Linked DNA regions of Homo sapiens: region 1 is linked to region 2. The links come from fine-mapping of genetic effects on gene expression. A gene starts in region 2. The other region holds a variant in brackets. All regions are shown on one strand. Distances are from middle to middle.

Region 1 (2,909 bases), 59 kb after region 2:
CAGGCTGCCTAATTCAAATCATAGCTCTGCCTTTTACTAACTCCGGAGCCATGTTAATAAAGAGGACCAAAGGAGAGAATGAATTTGAAAAGTGAAAGGAACAGTGCCTGGCATGTGGTAAGAACTTCGTAAATATTTGTTAAGAAAAAATAAACAAGGAAGGCAGTTAACATTTAAGTATTCATCTTCTACCAGCCGCCATTCACAGCATTTGTGTTTCAATTCGTTTGATCCTCACGATGTTCTCATGAAGTAGATAATGTAGTTATCTCCGTTTTGTGCTTAAGGAAACTAAGACCCAGAAAGGTTCTTTTGCTTGAGGCCACAGAGCTAGAAAGTGGTAAGAACCAGCTTCAGAACCAGGCAGTGTTGCTCCTGAGCCATCTTCTTAACCACCACACCGTGGGGCCACCATAGAGGATCTGGAGCTCAGCCTGTCGGCTGCAGGGTGCCAGAGGTGGACTCGTTTAGGGTAAGCAGGGCCGGCGCTCTGGCCCTTCCAGACTTGGGACTGTGGAACTCCTCTGACCACGTGGTGACCCATTTTCAATCCCCACCTCCAGACACGTACAGGAATGCAGAACTGGACCCCGTTACCACAGAAGAACAGGTTCTGGACGTCAAAGGTTACCTATCCAAAGTGAGAGGCATCAGTGAGGTGCTGGCTCGGAGGCACATGAAAGTGGCTTTTTTTGGCCGGTAAGTCCTTGAGGCACCCACCCTTTCTTTCTTCCTGGCTAGGAGGGAGGGAGGCACTTTGTGCAAGGTCACAGAACGTTCCAGGCAGGGACATGCTTCAGAATTCATTGCTTTCCTCTTAATTTATATTTTATTTATTTATTTGATTTTTGAGACAGGGTTCTCTGTCACCCAGGCTGGAAGCTCATTACAGCCTCGACCTCCCTGGGCTCAGGTGATCCTCCCACCTGAGCCTCCTGAGCAGCTGGGACTGCAGGTGCATGCCATCAAGCCTGACTTTTTTTTTTTTATTTTCTAATTAAGGTTAAAGGCATATAATATAAAATTTACCACCTTAACCATTTTAAGCATACAATTCACTAGTAGGTATATTTGCAACCAGTCTCAAGAGCTTTTTCATCTTGCAGAACTGAAGCTTGTATTATAGCCATTAAACAATAACTCCCTGTCCCACATGTCCCTTGCCCTGGCCACCACCATTCTACTTTCTGTCCCTATGAATTTGACTATTCTAGATGTCTCACGTAAGTGGAATCATACAGTATTTGTTTTTTTTTCTCCATTCATAAAACTTTTATTCCACTTACATGAATTTAATACACGTGTTCTTAACAATTGTGCTTGTATTGTTCATGAAAATTTCGTAAGACATTAAACAAAGCTAGCCATCATCTCAAGTTATTTCCCTGTTAACTATTTTTACAGTGCATGCATGTTAGGCAAGCATCAAAAAAAAATCACAAAAGCAAAGAATCTAAAAATATGCCGGGCATGGTGGCTCACACCTGTAATCCCAGCACTTTGGGAGGCCGAGGCAGGTGGATCACGAGGTCAGGAGATCGAGACCATCCTGTCTAACACAGTGAAACCCCATCTCTACTAAAAATACAAAAAATTAGCCGGGTGAGGTGGCGGGCGCCTGTAGTCCCAGCTACTTGGGAGGCTAGGGCAGGAGAATGGTGTGAACCCCAGGGGGCGGAGCCTGCAGTGAGCCGAGATCGGGCCACTGCACTCCAGCCTGGGCGACAGTGAGACTCCATCT[CA/C]AAAAAAAAAAAAAAAATCTAAAAATAAGTTAAATACGTGTTTTTTTTGTTTTGTTTTACTGCTAGCTTGATATACATGAAGTATTCATTTTTCCTGCATCTTTACTTTTACATTTGTTCTTAGGTTGCCTGAAACATTTTAAATACAAATAAAATGAGTGTAGCAAAAATAATGAAAGCTAACAGCAGATAACTTTACAAATAATGGAGTGTGAACCATTTCTGCCCTTATCCAGATTGAAATGGGTCACAACTTTGTTTAAAGGAACACTTCCACAGCTGTAGTCAAAGGTGTGCACATTGAGATTGAGTATTCCACAGACACACATGGTTTAACATGTGATAACCATGGGGTATCTGTTTCTACCACAGCCTTGTAAGTGCTCCAAACCTTAAAGTACCCACATTTACTATACCTGTGACTGGAACCAATGATCCTTTTTATTCCCCACCAGGACAAACCAATATGTAGGCAGTTTTCTTTGCTTTGACATGGAAGCAGTTTTAACACTGGCCCTTGTGAAGCCACAATGTACCTAAAGTACTAGGCCAAACATTTATAACTTGTATAATGACCAGGCACGGTGGCTCACGCCTGTAATCCCAGCACTTTGGGAGGCCAAGGCAGGCAGATCACAAGGTCAGGAGATTGAGACCATCCTGGCTAACACGGTGAAACCCCATCTCTACTAAAAATACAAAAAAAATTAGCTGGGTGTGGTGGCGGGCGCCTGTAGTCCCAGCTACTTGGGAGGCTGAGGCAGGAGAATGGCATGAACCCAGGAGGTGGAGGTTGCAGTGAGTCAAGATCGCGCCACTGCACTCCAGCCTAGGTGACGGAGTGAGACTCCGTCTCAAAAAAAAAAAATCTAATACAAGAAAAAAGGCATCTAGACAGATTGTATGCTAGGCACACAGTGGTAGCCTGGGGAATAGGCACTGTGCCTAGAGTCTTGACCCTGATGAACTGTAACCTCAGGTGTGGTCCTCTACTCCTCTGAACTATCATTTCTTCATCCTCACCTGGGAGGTATGACCCCCTACTTAGGTGAGCTAGTGGGCTTCCTGTCTCACTGGGTGCAGGTAAGGTCATTGTAGTTCTGCTCTAGTGATATGGCTGAGAAACTTCAACTCAGAATGAGAAACACTGTGTTTAGCACAGGTTGA
Region 2 (2,909 bases):
CCGTGCCCGGCCTCTGTCTGAGGTTTCTTCCAAGGAAGGAAGGATTTTTGTTCAGAGGTGGCTGCCCCTGTCTGACATCTGGTCCAGGAGCCCTTACTCTAGAGACCGTTGAGTTGTTTGTTGGGCTTTGGGTATCTGTGAAGAGGCCCTAAAAACTTTCATCGATTCGTTTACTCATTTAACAATTAATCTCTCTAGGGTGTGGTGGCTCAGCCTGTAATCCCAGCACTTTGGGAGGCCAAGGCGGGTGGATCATCTGAGGGTGGGAGTTCAAGACCAGCCTGACCAACATGGAGAAACCCCACCTCTACTAAAAATACAAAATTAGCTGGGCATGGTGGCACATGCCTGTAATCCCAGCTACTCGGGAGGCTGAGGCAGGAGAATTGCTTGAACCCGGGAGGCGGAGGTTGCCGTGACCCCAGATCTCGCCGTTGCACTCCAGCCTGGGCAACAAGAGTGAAACTCTGTCTCAAAAAAAAGGTAGAAAAATTAGCCAGGGATGGTGGCTCAGGCCTGTGATCCCACCTACTTGGGAGGCTGAGATGGGAGGATCGCTTGAGCCCGGGAGGTCGAGGCTGCAGCAAGCGGTGATCACGCCACTGCACTCCAGCCTGGGCAACTGAAAGCAACCTTGTCTCAAAAAAATGAAAAAAAAAAAACAAAAAACAAAAAAACCTCAGAAGCAAGACTTTCCTTGGCTCAGAGGTTTGCCTCCCAGGGACACAAAGGGAGATCAAGTGATTGCCTTTTGGGGAGAGTGGAGACGGGCTTCCTGCATTTCCAGTGCCTGGGTGGGCCACGTAGGGGTGTCCGTGTCTCTGAACGCATCCGTGCCCACCCTCACCCCTTGGGTTTTGGGAAGGACTAATGAAATCATGAAAACTGACTTCCTTGGGGCTTGACCTGGGGCTGCTCTAAGTGCGCTACAGGTAACGCCATTAACCCGTGCAAGACCCAATGAACAGACGCTATCATAAGCCCCACTTTTCAGGCGAGCAAACAGGGGCTCGTGGCTATCGATGCCATGGAGCCTTGGCCCAGAACCTGGGGTCTAGAAATCGTGGCCTCTCTCTCCTCTCACCGCCCTCTTTCTGGTCGGAGTGAACCCCCCAGAGAAGGGAGGGAGACGGCAGGGCCTGACGGAAGCCCCGGGAGCTGCACAGAGAGGCGGAGGGAGCTGCCCTAATAAGGAGAGGCCCGGACTTGGGCATATCTGCAGAAAAACCCTTCCCCACTAGGCAGGCGCGGGGGAGGGCGTGGAGGGGCGGGGTGGTGCCGCCCCCGGGGCGGGCCCAGTGCGTGGCAGCGGGACCTGCGGCCCCGTCGCGAAGTTTCCAGCCCTGCGAGCGCCGCCGGGTCGGCCGATCGTCCCCCATACCTCGGCCATGCGGCCCCTGCTGCTACTGGCCCTGCTGGGCTGGCTGCTGCTGGCCGAAGCGAAGGGCGACGCCAAGCCGGAGGGTGAGGGAGCGAAGGCCGGGGGCGGGAGCGCGGATCCGGGCGGGAGGGCTGGTGTCGGGCTGCCTCCCTGGGAACGACCTGAATGGGAGGCCTGGGCTGGAGAGGGAGTCTGGGTTCCGGCTCCTTGTCCACTTAATCGCTGGTGACTTGAACAAATCACTTCCCCTCTTGGGGCTGCGGTTCCTGCTTCGGGAAGGAAAGGGTGACAGCTGAGTCCCATTCAGCACAGAAAGGCTCAAATAATAATAGTTTTCATAATAATAACCGACAATGGCTATTCTGCCCAGTGCTCACTATGGGCCAGGCATCAGTTAGGCATGATTGCTACCCTGGTAAGTGTTTCCTTCTATTATCCCCGTTTTCCAGCTGGGCAAACTGAGGCTCCAGAGTTCATTCACTTGCCCAAGATCATACAACTTGTGGGCCTTGGAACCAGGATTTACCCCACCCACCCAGGTGTCTGGTTCCAGAGCCAGGAGGCCTCATGACCATGGGAATGAGGGGTCTTGAGGGGGACAGGGGAGGAATGGGGGTAGAAGGTGTGGCTCACTTTGTGGATAAGTTTGTGCTTTCATCCATGTCCCCTGTGGTCTGCTTAGCCCCTGCCAGGGTGGTCTTCCTCTCTGCAGTTTATTTTTTTTATTTTACTTAATGTATTATTTATTTAGTTATTTATTTATTTTTGAGACAGAGTCTTGCTCTGTCGCCCAGGCTGGAACGCAGTATGCGATCTCGGCTTACTGCAACCTCTGCCTCCCAGGTAAAAGCAATTCTTTTTTTTTTTTTTGAGATGGAGTCTCGCTCTGTCGCCCAGGCTGGAATGCAGTGGCACAATCTCAGCTCACTGCAACCTCCACCTCCCAGGTTCAAGTGTTTCTCCTGCCTCGGCCTCCCAAGTAGCTGGGATTACAGGCACGTGCCACCATGCCTAGCTAATTTTTGTATTTTTAGTTGAGATGGGGTTTCACCATGCTGGCCAGGCTGGTCTTGAACTTCTGACCTCTTGATCCGCTGGCCTCAGCCTCCCAAAATGTTTGGATTACAGGCGTGAGCCATCGCGCCCGGCCGGTTCAAGCGACTCCTGTACCTCAGCCTCCCAGGTAGGTGGGATCACAGACATGTGCCACCATGCCCAGCTAATTTTTGTATTTTTGGTGGAGATGGGGTTTCACCATGTTGGCCAGGCTGGTCTTGAACTCTTGACCTCAGGTGATCAGCCCACCTTGGTCTCCCAAAGTGTTGGGATTACAGGCGTGAGCCACCACACCTGGCCCTCTCTGCAGTTTATACTTGAGGAAACTGAGGCCCAGACAGGTGAAGTGACTGTCCAGGGTGGTCCAGACAGAGGTGGTTGGTCCGAGGTCAGCTGGGCTCCAGTCTAGCGCTCTTTCTACTTCCTCAAGGCAGATTGGATTGCAGTGTGTGCCCCACTGTCCTGAGTGGGT

Which allele goes with the higher level. Alleles are on the strand shown, and positions count from the first base shown. SD is a standard deviation of normalised expression in the study named.
For the expression in neutrophils of the gene that starts at base 1,326 in region 2, CA is the high allele of the variant in region 1 and C is the other (large effect, 0.87 SD a copy in CEDAR).

The links. PIP is the estimated chance that this variant, and not a neighbour inherited with it, causes the effect.
Region 1: its variant is the best candidate, but not a certain one, in a credible set for the expression of PLOD1 in neutrophils (CEDAR, PIP 0.53).

The regions. Positions count from the first base shown.
Region 1 is chr1:11,991,992-11,994,900 of GRCh38, forward strand. MFN2 (mitofusin 2) reads left to right here. Exons shown (of 19, transcript NM_014874.4): 4 at 564-699. Among named protein-coding and RNA genes, the nearest start is that of MFN2, 13 kb to the left of the region's middle. The variant CA/C (reference allele first, on the strand shown) is at 1,742.
Region 2 is chr1:11,933,392-11,936,300 of GRCh38, forward strand. It overlaps PLOD1 (procollagen-lysine,2-oxoglutarate 5-dioxygenase 1), which reads left to right and starts at 1,326. Exons shown (of 19, transcript NM_000302.4): 1 at 1,326-1,464. The coding sequence starts at 1,389. RefSeq lists enhancers at 109-1,034, 865-914, 1,035-1,958 and a silencer at 1,135-1,604.